Linked DNA regions of Homo sapiens: region 2 is linked to region 1. Evidence: fine-mapped expression QTL. A gene starts in region 1. The other region holds a variant in brackets. All regions are shown on one strand. Distances are from middle to middle. Region 1 holds the start of TCN2 (transcobalamin 2). Region 2 overlaps OSBP2 (oxysterol binding protein 2).

What was found.
Region 2: its variant is fine-mapped to the expression of TCN2 in fibroblasts (GTEx, PIP above 0.99).

Annotation. Positions count from the first base shown.
Region 1 is chr22:30,604,599-30,610,114 of GRCh38, reverse strand. It overlaps TCN2 (transcobalamin 2), which reads right to left and starts at 2,941. Exons shown (of 9, transcript NM_000355.4): 1 at 2,720-2,941. The coding sequence starts at 2,783. It also overlaps a transcript of PES1 not described here. RefSeq lists enhancers at 445-724, 499-793, 2,779-3,073, 2,576-3,155.
Region 2 is chr22:30,715,480-30,720,479 of GRCh38, reverse strand. All of the region lies in intron 1 of OSBP2 (oxysterol binding protein 2), which reads right to left. Among named protein-coding and RNA genes, the nearest start is that of MIR3200, 14 kb to the left of the region's middle. RefSeq lists an enhancer at 2,433-3,632. The variant C/T (reference allele first, on the strand shown) is at 3,034.

The DNA.
Region 1 (5,516 bases):
ACTCTGGAAGCGGAAGCCTTAGGGATAGTTCCAAGGGACTTGAGCTCAGCACAGGGTAGCTTAGAGTAGTTTGCCTCGGAGGTAACCTTGCACTTTCGGTCCCTGTTTACTGCCTCCCAGTTGCTGCTGGGCTCCAGCTGCCTGATGGTGGCCTTCACTGTGCCATATCCCAGGGGACCAGAACGAGGACCAGAGCTCCTAGAACAGCTCCATCTCTGTGGGTCTGGGTCCCACAACCTCGTGTCTGTTTTCCCGACAGCCCCAGATACCTGTTGCTATAAGGTGACCATCCACCAGCATGAAACCCTACATAATCCTTTGCTGTGTGGGCCCAGACCAAAGCACATGGCTGGTTTCTCACCAGATGTTAAGAGAGACTGGGGGGTTGCTTTTTTCCCTTTCTGTCACTGAGAACCATTTTTTGGTGCCTATCTCCATTTCTCCGTCTCTGTCACTCAATGTGTGAGGCTCTCTGGGTCTGTCTCAGTCTCTCTCAGCCTGTGTCTCTCTGGTCATCTGCCCCCCTCCTCACCTCTCTTTCCTTTTCCCTTTTCTTGAAACGCGCAAGGGAGTTCCCTGACCTCACCCCGGGCTCTCACTTCCAGCACGATGAGTCAGCACAGGGTTAGAAACTGAAAGATCAGGATCCAGCTGTAAAGGGAGAGACTGACAACCACAGAGCAACCTCCTTAGAAGGAAGGGGCCAGGCAGATTCACGCAGGGTAATAAAAGCAGCCTTGGGTGAGCTCTCGCCCTACCAACCCAGCCCTGCCAGCTAAGGGCTGATTGCTGTTGACATTCACAAGCACAGGAGCCAGACAGAGTGGCTCACGCCTGTAATACCAGCAGTTTGGGAGGCCAAGGTGGGAGGATCGCTTGACCCTAGGAGTTTGAAACCAACCCTGGGCAATATAGTGAGACCTCATCTCTAGAAGAAAATTAAAAAAAAAAAAAAGAAGAAGAAAGAGAAAAGGAAGCACAGGAGCCCACTTTGCATTAGCGTTTGTGCAGCGATCCCTGTCAATTTCACAACATACATATAGAGCTTTAAACTGGGAGAGCAGGTGTCATGGGATCCTTCCTTGTACTACACCGAGGAGGAAGGCAGGGGAGCATTCTTAGCCCACTTTACAGATAAAGGAATGAGGCTGGGTGCAATTAAGTGACTCAGTGCAGATATTTGCACCCCAAACCCCAGTTCAAGATTCCCCAGACCCCAAGGGATTGGGGCTCCTGTGGGGTCAGGTTAATGGACTAACTGTCCAAGGCTGAGGACCAGATCAGCCAGGAGGAAGAGCTCTTGCTGGTTGAACCCAGAACTCCCCTGGGGACTGTCCGGACATGAACCAAGAGCTGGGGTTCCTGGGCCCAGACCTGAGGTGTCTGATTGCATTTATGGAACACAGATGAGAGGCTTGGAGTTCTGGCCGGGCACGGTGGCTCACGCCTGTAATCTCAGCAATTTGGGAGGCCGACGCAAGAGTTTCACTTGAGCCCAGGAGTTCGAGACCAGCCTGGGCAACATGGCGAAACCCTGTCTCTACAAAAAAATACAAAAATTAGCCAAGCATGGTAGTATGCACATGCAGTCTCCAGCTACTTGGGAGGCTGAGGTGGGGGAATCACTTGAACCCACAAGGCAGAGGCTGCAGTGAGCCAAGATCGTGCCACTGCACTCCAGCCTGGGCAACAGAGGGAGAACCTCTCTCAACAAAAAACAAAACGAAAACAAACGAGGCTTCAAGTTCTAAAAACTAAGTTCAGCAAAGCTCTGGAAAAGGTGGAGCACCCTGAGTGGGTCACTCAGCCCCTCCAACCCTCGACTTCTTCACTTGACACCTGGACATGACTGCACCCACCTCTCAGGGTTTCCCCAGGGTCTCAAGAGACCATGGGGGTGAAAGTGTATTGCTCAACGTAATCCTAGGTGCAGAGGAGGAGAAAAGGCGCGTGGGCGGCCCAAAGTTCCCAAAGCCTGCCTTCTGCCTCCTGTCTGAAGGAGCAGCCCTGAGCCTCTAAGCTCAGACTCATAGACAGGTCCCAGGAGACTGTGCTCCAAGAGACCCCTTGGGGCACAGAGCTGGAGCAGGCAGGACCTCCGAAGGCTCACTTCCTGCTGCCTAGAATGTGTGTCCCCCACTCCTTTCCTGCCAGCTCCTTTTCTTCCTTCGAGTTTCAGCTCCCATGTGTCCTCTTGGTCTTCAGAAAGTCTTCCCCATGCCCAGCTATTTTTTAATTTTTTTTATTTTTTGTAGAGATGGGGTCTCCCTATGTTGCCCAGGCTGACCTTGAACTGTTGAGCTCAAGCGATCCTCCCCTCCCGCCTCAGCCTTCCAAAATGCTGAGATTTCAGGTGGGAGCACCTAACCATTTCTTTTGTCTGTCCCCCTTCCCTAGAACATAAGCTCTAGGATGGCAGGGATTAGACTTGTCTCATGCTTTGCACGTTCCCCAAAGGCTAACACTGGGCCTGACACAGAAAAGGCTCAGTATGCGCTGAATGAATGTGTGAACGAATGACTGAATTAACGGAGATCTTGTCTGGTGAGGAGTCAAACATATAATCAATCACAATAGGATGTGTTAAATGCTGAGGTCCAGCTAAGCCCAAACTGCTATGGGAGCTTAGAAGGGCAGGTAAGTTCCCTCATCCTATGCCCTAGCCACCCCACTAAGGACCCAGGAGGAAAGAGGCACAGGATAGAGGCGAGTTACTCACCACACATCTCAGTGAGGGCCCCCAGGACCCCCAGAAGGAAGAGGAAGGCCCCAAGGTGCCTCATGGCAGCAGCAGGTGGGTGAGCAGTGAGCAAGAATCGGGAAAGACTCCTGGGGCTGGCCCTGCTGAGGCTCTCCTGACCACAGCTGGTCACCGCTCCGAGAGACGCAGCTTCCTGTCACTGATTAATCCTCCATGCCTGCAATGCACGGCTAAGTCTGCAGAGGGGTGGGGCGGGGGAAGGTCTGTGGTGGCGGGGAACATAAGGCCAAAGAACAGAGGAAGGAAGGGCAGAGCAGCCCTCCTGGAGGTAGGGAACAAAGGGAGGAGGAGGGCTAGTGGGACCATGTGAGACATCTTGAGGCCATTCACGTTCCTGCTTAAAGAGCCCGGGACCAGCGCAGAGGGCCTGATGCCTGATCTGTCAAGTCTGTCCGACCGTGCCTGTCTGCTGTCCCCCCAGCTGTTCCAGTGGTGGATTGGCAGGACCGGGTGCCTACCCGGTACTCCTTACCAAAGGAGCCCCTGGTAGTGCCCACCTAGCCCAGGACAAGGAGTGGAACGGGAGCTGCAGCTGCAGTGGTCACGTGAGCAGCATTGCTGGAGTCAGCTGTTTTTCAGCACCGCCTCCCTCAGTTGTGGCGGGAGGGGATTGTGGGGGTGGGGGAGTTGGGCAGTTGGGGAGGGGGAGTTGGGCAGTTCGGTGGGGGGGGGGAGTTGGGCAATTGAGGGGAGGGTGGGTGCCGCTGGCCCCAGACCAGCCAGGCCACTTTTCTCAACCAATCCGAAAGGGCTGGGAGCCTCCTGGAGAGGACAAAACAAAACAAGTTAAAGAATGGGATTAAGTCCGGGCACGGTGGCTCACACCTGTAATCCTAGCACTTTGAAAGGCTGAGGCGGGCAGATCACTTGAGCTCAGGAGTTGGAGACCAGCCTGGGCAACATGGGGAAACACTGTCTCTACAAAAACACAAAAAACACATACAAAAAACCATAAATTAGCCTGGCGTGGTGGCAGACGTCTGTAATCCCAGCTACTTGGGGGGCTGAGGCAGGAGGATCGCTTGAACCCAAGAGGTGGAGGCTACAGTGAGCCAAGATTACACCACTGCACTCCAGCTTGGGTGACAAAGTGAGACCCTGTCTCAAAAATAAAATAAAATAAAAAGAATGAGATTGAATCGAGACACAAAGCTACCAGAAGCAGGGGTACTTGCCAGAACTCGGAAAGTAACCTCAAAAAAAATCTCTGCAAACAGGGAAGAGAACAAAAGATTCCTCATCTGCCCAGCCCCACAGGAGAATCAATGTATACGAGTTAACTAGTGGTGGCTGTGTGACTTTGGCCAGGTCACTTAACCTCTCGAGTTTAAAATAGTTCTTCCTGTGTGAGAAGAGAGGGTTAGGCAAGATCATCCTAACAGTTCCCTTTCAGCTCAATTTGTGAAGACACTATGACCTTAAAATATCTCCAATCATTTCCATGCACAATCTGCATTGCAATTATTTTATGGTAAATTGCCAAGGTTCACTCTTTTAAGACAATCTTTTTGAGCCTGATTTATCACAAACCAAGCCCTTGACATAAATAAATACAGCAACGTGTGTCTGTTTACGGAACTACTTGAAAATTTTAAATGATAGGTTGTCCAGTCAGAAAGGCTGGATGTGGCCACTAGGAGGAGCACCCCTGGAGGTTCTGAGGAAGGAGGGAGGCCAGTGGGGAGCCCAACTTCCGCAGAACCGCACGTTTGGACCTTCAGGGGAGTCATGGTGAAGTGTGTGCAATGGAGCCACCTTGGTCCTGGGTGGGACTGCCTTGGCTCCCCCAACCCTCTGCCTGTTTCCAGTAACAACTATTATGATTCCTATTTCCAGGAAGGCAGCCTGGAGGAGGTGGCCATGGAGGATAGCCTTCGTTATCGTCAGCCTCTGGTGAGAAGCAGCAGCATCCTTCCAGAGAGTCACTTCTGATCCCCAAGGTAGTTAGGGTGTCGAAGTAAAGGAGGGAGACACCCCCCTGCCTACCTACCTGGACTCAGTGCTAGAGGGTGGGGGAGTAGGAATAGGAAGACAGCATATTTCCCATACATATTAGAAATACTGGTGGCTCATGCCTGTAATCCCAGCACTTTGGGAAGCCAAGGCAGGAGGATTGCTTGAGCCCACAAGTTTGAGACCAGTCTAGGCAAGATGGTGAGACCCTGATTCTAAAAAACAAACAAAACCAAAAAATGCCAGGGATGGTGGTGTGTGCCTGTAAGTCTCAGCTAATCTAGAGGCTACAAGTGGGAGGATCACTTGAGCCCAGGAGGCTGAGGTTGCAGTGAGCTGAGATCAGACCACTGCACTCCAGTCTGGGCGACAGAAGGAGACCCTGTCCTAAAAATAAAGTAAAATTAAAAAAAGAAATAGAGTGACTGGTCAGGGGTAGTGCTATTTCAGGTCATGTGGTCAGGGAATGTGAAAAACAAAAATGATTACATCATTTAGATCAGGATTTCTATTTTTTTTATTTTTGAACTCCTGGGCTCAAGCGATCCTCCTGTCTCAGCCTCCCAAAGAGCTGGGATTACAGGCATGAACCACTGCACCTGGCCAGATCAAGATTTCTATTTGTGGTGAAAACTAGCTTGGAATGAGAAAGTAAAAGTCTGCCTGTGCTCCCACTAGACTGGGATAACAGGGACCTCTAAAGCCAGCTGCAAGCCAGCTGCAACATCAACAGGAAACATTTCTTATTTTTTCTTATTTATTTATTTTTTTTGAGACAGGGTCTCACTCGTTGCCCAGGCTG
Region 2 (5,000 bases), 110 kb before region 1:
GTCATGTTGTGAGGACACTCGAGCGGCCCTTTGGAGAAATCCACAGGGTGAGGAACTGAGGCCTCCTGCCAATTGCCTGCACCATTTTGCCAGGCGTGTGAGTGAGCCACAATGGAAGTGGAGTCTCCAGCCAGTCAAGCCTTCAAATGACCGCAGCCCTCATGACAGATCCTGAGCCCACTCAGGATCACCCCAATTAATCACCCATAGGTGAATTCATGATCCATGGAAACAATGAGATAATGCTTATTGTTGTCTTACAGTGCTAAATTTCAAGGTGATTTGTTATGCGGCAACAGATAATACACAGTAACACTGAGACAGCCTCTCTGAAGATGAAAAGTACATCCATGTGGAAGGGATAACCCCAGCTGTGTGGGACAGAGAAATATCCCAATGAGGACAGAGGTTGCACGGAAACCTATCTCAGCTCAACAGAAGGATTTTCTAACATTCAGAGTTGTTTAAGGAACAATCAGCTTATCTTAGAGGTTTGCTCTCTGTTACCTGAGAGGTGATAAGGGGGTTGAGATGCTATGGGAAGAAGTCAATGAACAGAGAGATGGTTGGCTTGATGGCACTTTTTGTTGTTGTTGTTGTTCCCTTGTTGTTTGTTTGTTTGTTTTTGAGAGATGGGTTCTATGTTGTCCAGGCTGGTCTTGAACTCCTGGCCTCAAGCTATCCTGGCTCTGGCTCAGTGACTTTTTTTTTTTTTCTTTTTTTTTTGAGACAGAGTCTCACTTTGTTGCCCAGGATAGAGTGCAGTGGTGCCATCTCAGCTCACTGCAACCTCTGCCTCCTTGGTTCAAGCAATTCTCATGCCACAGCCTTCCAAGTAGCTGGGATTACCGGGGTGCGCCACCACTCCCGGCTTATTTTGTATCTTTGGTAGAGATGGGATTTTGCCATGTTGGCCAGGCTGGTCTCAAACTCCTGGCCTTAAGTGATCCACTCACCTTGGCCTCCCAAAGTGCTGGGATTACAGGTGTGAGCCACTGTGCCTGGCCTTGGTGACTTTTAAGTTCCTTACCTAGAGATTCTTCTGCCACCACACCAGGCAACTTTTCCAGGGCCCTGGAAAATCTAATCAGCTTCCCATTCATGGCACATCTCTGCAGTGTGTGGCTGGCTATCAGTTACTGAACACTGATTTACTGTGGGCTGGGACTTCTGGGAGGGAACAGACAAAACATGAGCTACTGGTCCTGCCACACAGCTGCACATGCACACATAATGACACACACTGCCACCGAGCACAAACTAAGGCTGAAAGAGAAGGGGAGTGAGGAGGGCAGCAGCCTGAAGCCAGGGATAATGTTGAGAGGACTGCGAGGCACTCAGGTAAGTACAGGCTGGAGAGAAGGCACAGCGGGAATCAGCTCAAGGTTAAGAACACTCTAATCCCGTCTCTAGAAGGCAAAGGCTCAGTAAGCTGACAGATAAATTCAAACTCAGAAGAACTGCAGGATTCAAAAGAAGAAAATTGCTTCCATGCCTGTATCTAGCAAAATAATTTTATTTTCTGAAAATAAAAAATTCAAAGAAGGTGCCTTTCTTGTCACAGTGCATGAACAACTCAGCAAAAAGTCCCCACTCAGTCTGCCCGCAAGGCTCCCAAGTCTGAGAACCAGAACACACCATCAGCCCTGTTCCCATGCTGCCCCAGGGCTCAGGAGCAAGGGCCCAGGCCATTTCTGCAACAAATCTGTTAGTACTGGCAGGGGGAAAAAAAAGGGGGAGACAAGCACCCGGATGTTGTCACTGCAACTCCGAAGTTGTAAAGTTGCAACTCCAACAGCAGTGCCCAGGGCCTGTGGCCCCAGGGGCAGGAAGGCCAGTGAACACCTGAGGCCCAGCTAAAGCATCCCCCATTCTTTCCCTACCAGGTCAGTCACCAGATTCCTGGCCTCCTGGACTCAGATCTCCAAGCCATTAAGTCAACAGACATTTCCCGAGTCCTTTGATGTGCCAAGCCCAGTGCCAAGCATACAGGTCATCTTTTATATCTCATCTCTCCTCCTCCTCCTTCCAGATGGTTTCCCATCAAATTTTCAGAAAGGTAAGGATAGAAAGAACCCCAGACATCACCTAGCCTAGTCCTCTCACTCTATAGATAAAGAGGCTAAAGGATGTGATCGTTAGAAGGGAGGTTAGAGGCTGTGACAGACTGAAGCATTTCTCCTGTTTCTTTCTGCCATCCCTGAACTACAATTTTAAGTGCACAACTTTTGCCACTGGACTTTGTAGGATCCTCTAAAATGGGGAATGGATATCTTCCCACCCTACTGATATTGGACAGGGCCACATGCCTTGATTCAGCCAATGGAATGTGGAATGGAGTGAGGGTGTGCAGGCTCAAGCTGGGATGCTGTGACTCTCGATTACCCTCCTGTACTTCTGCCATCACAACAGGAAGACACACCTCCTAGCTTACTCCCAAGTGCCACTGCCTGAAGGAGACCTGGCCTGGTCATCTGCGGACCCTCAAGCAAGAGAAAACCACTGCTGCTTTAACCTCAGAGTTTAAATCACCACTGGGCAATGTGTTTTGAAGTTGCTTGATCCAGGAGGACAGGTGAGCTGAGGACTCGATTCTAACTCCCGCCCACCCTCGCCTGTCAGAATGCACACACAACCCATTGTCACTGAGGTGTCAGAGTAGAGCAAGGGATCAGCAGGAGATGATGATGCTGGAGAGGCAGAGATGAGGCCAGTCCTGAGGGGGAGTCATGTTGGCACATATTTGAGATGAATAGAAGATGAATAAGGAGACTCTAAGTGTCAAAATAAGAGTCTCAACCAGCAATCTTTGTCATCAACCTAAGGATCTGCTTTTGACTTCCATCTGCTTTCTTACAGGCTATGGCAATCATTCTTTTTGTAAGTACAGGGCTTTATAGCTAGTGAGCAAAGCCTAGAGATGTGAGAAGGGACTCTAGAGGTCCACTTTCCTGGATGTAACTTCCCATCTGGTCCTGGATGGCACAGCTGCAGCTGGACAGTAAAACATGTGTCATTTCCCCTTAGTGTAGG[C/T]GTTTTTCAAAAGGCCTTGATTTTTTCCCTGTGTCAAATGATCTTTGGCAAGGATGCCAAGATGACTCAGTGGGGGAAAGGACAGTCTCTTCAACAAATGATGTTGAAAAAACTGGATGTCCTTGTGCAAAAGAATGAAGTTAGACCCTTATCTCACACCATATGCAAAAATTAACTCAAAATGGATTAAAGACCCAGCAAGGTGCAGTGGCTCTTGCCTATAATCCCAGCTACTTGGGAGGCTGAGGTAGGAGAATCACTTGAGGCCAGGAGTTCAAGATCAGCCTGAGCAACATAGCGAGACCCTGTCTCTACACACACACACACACACACACACACACACACACACACACACAAAAACAGTAAAATTAAAACAAAATAGATTTAAATGCCTAAATGTAACATCTGTACAACTCCTAGAGAAAACCATAGGCATAAAGTTTCATGACATTGGATTTGGCAATGATTTCTTGGATATGACACCAAAAGCACAGGCAACAAAAGCAAAAACAGACAAATGGGACTCCATCGAAGGACACAACTTAAGTTCCTTGAAGGACACAATCAACAAAGTAAAAAGGAAACTTATGGAATAGGAGAAAATATTTGCTAATCATATATCTGACAGTGGGTTAATGTCTAGAATGTAAGAAGAACTTCTACAACTCAACAACAAAAATCAAATAAATGATTAAAAAATGAGCAAAGGGGCTAGGCATGGTGGCTCACACCTGTAATCCCAGCATTTTGGGAAGCTGAGGCGGGCAGATCACTTGAGGTCAGGAGTTCGAGACCAGCCTGGCCAACATGGTGAAATCCCATCTCTACAAAAATACAAAAAATTAGCCAGGCGTGGTGGTGGGCACCTGTAATCCCAGCTACTCAGAAGGCTGAGGCAGGAGAATTGCTTGAACCTGGGAGGCGGAGGTTGCAGTGAGCCGAGATTGAGCCATTGCACTCCAGCCCGGGCAACCATGTGAGACTCTGTCTCAAAAAAACAAAAAACAAAACAAAACAAAAAAACAAACAAACAAAAAAAGGATTTGAACAGACATTTCTCTAAAGATGTTATACAAACGATCAACAAGCATATGAAAAGATGCTCAGCCAGGTGTGGTGGCTTATGCCTGTAGTCCCAGCACTTTGGGAGGCTGAAACAGGCAGATCACCTGAGGTCAGGAGTTCAAGACCAGCCTGGCCAACATGGCAAAACCCCATCTCTACTAAAAGTACAAAAATTAGCTGGGTGTGGTGGCAGGCACCTGTAATCACAGCTACTCAGGAGGCTGAGGCAGAAGAATCACTTGAACCCAGGAGGTGGAGGTTGCAGTGAGCCGAGACCATGCCATTGCACTCCAGCCTGGGCGACAAGAGCGAGATTCTGTCTCAAAAAAAAAAAAAAGAAAGAAAGAAAGAAAGAAAAGATGCTTGTGGTTGGGCATGGTGGCACAGGCCTGTAATCCCGATACTTCGGGAGGCTGAGGTGGGATACTTTGGGAGGCTGAGGTGGGAGGATCACTTGAGCCCAGGAATTCGAGACCAGCTTGGATAACACTGCAAGATCCTGTGTTAAAAAAAAAAAAAAAAAAAGGTTAGGTGTGGTGGCTCATGCTTATAATCCCAGCACTTTGGGAGGCCAAGGTGGGAAGGTCGCCTGCGGTCAGGAGTTCAAGACCAGCCTGGCCAACATGTTGAAACCCCGTCTCTACTAAAAACACAAAAAATTAACTGGACATGGTGGCAGGCACCTGTAATCAATCACAGCTACCTGGGAGGCTGAGGCAGGAGAATCGCTTGAACCCAGGAGGCAGAGGTTGCAGTGAGCCGAGATGGCGCCATTGCACTCCAGCCTGGGCAACAAGAGTGAAACTCCACCTCAAAAAAAAAAAAAAATCTAAAAATTAGCCATGTGTGGTGGTGTGCACACCTGTATTCCCAGCTACTCAGGAGGCTGAGGTGGGAGGATC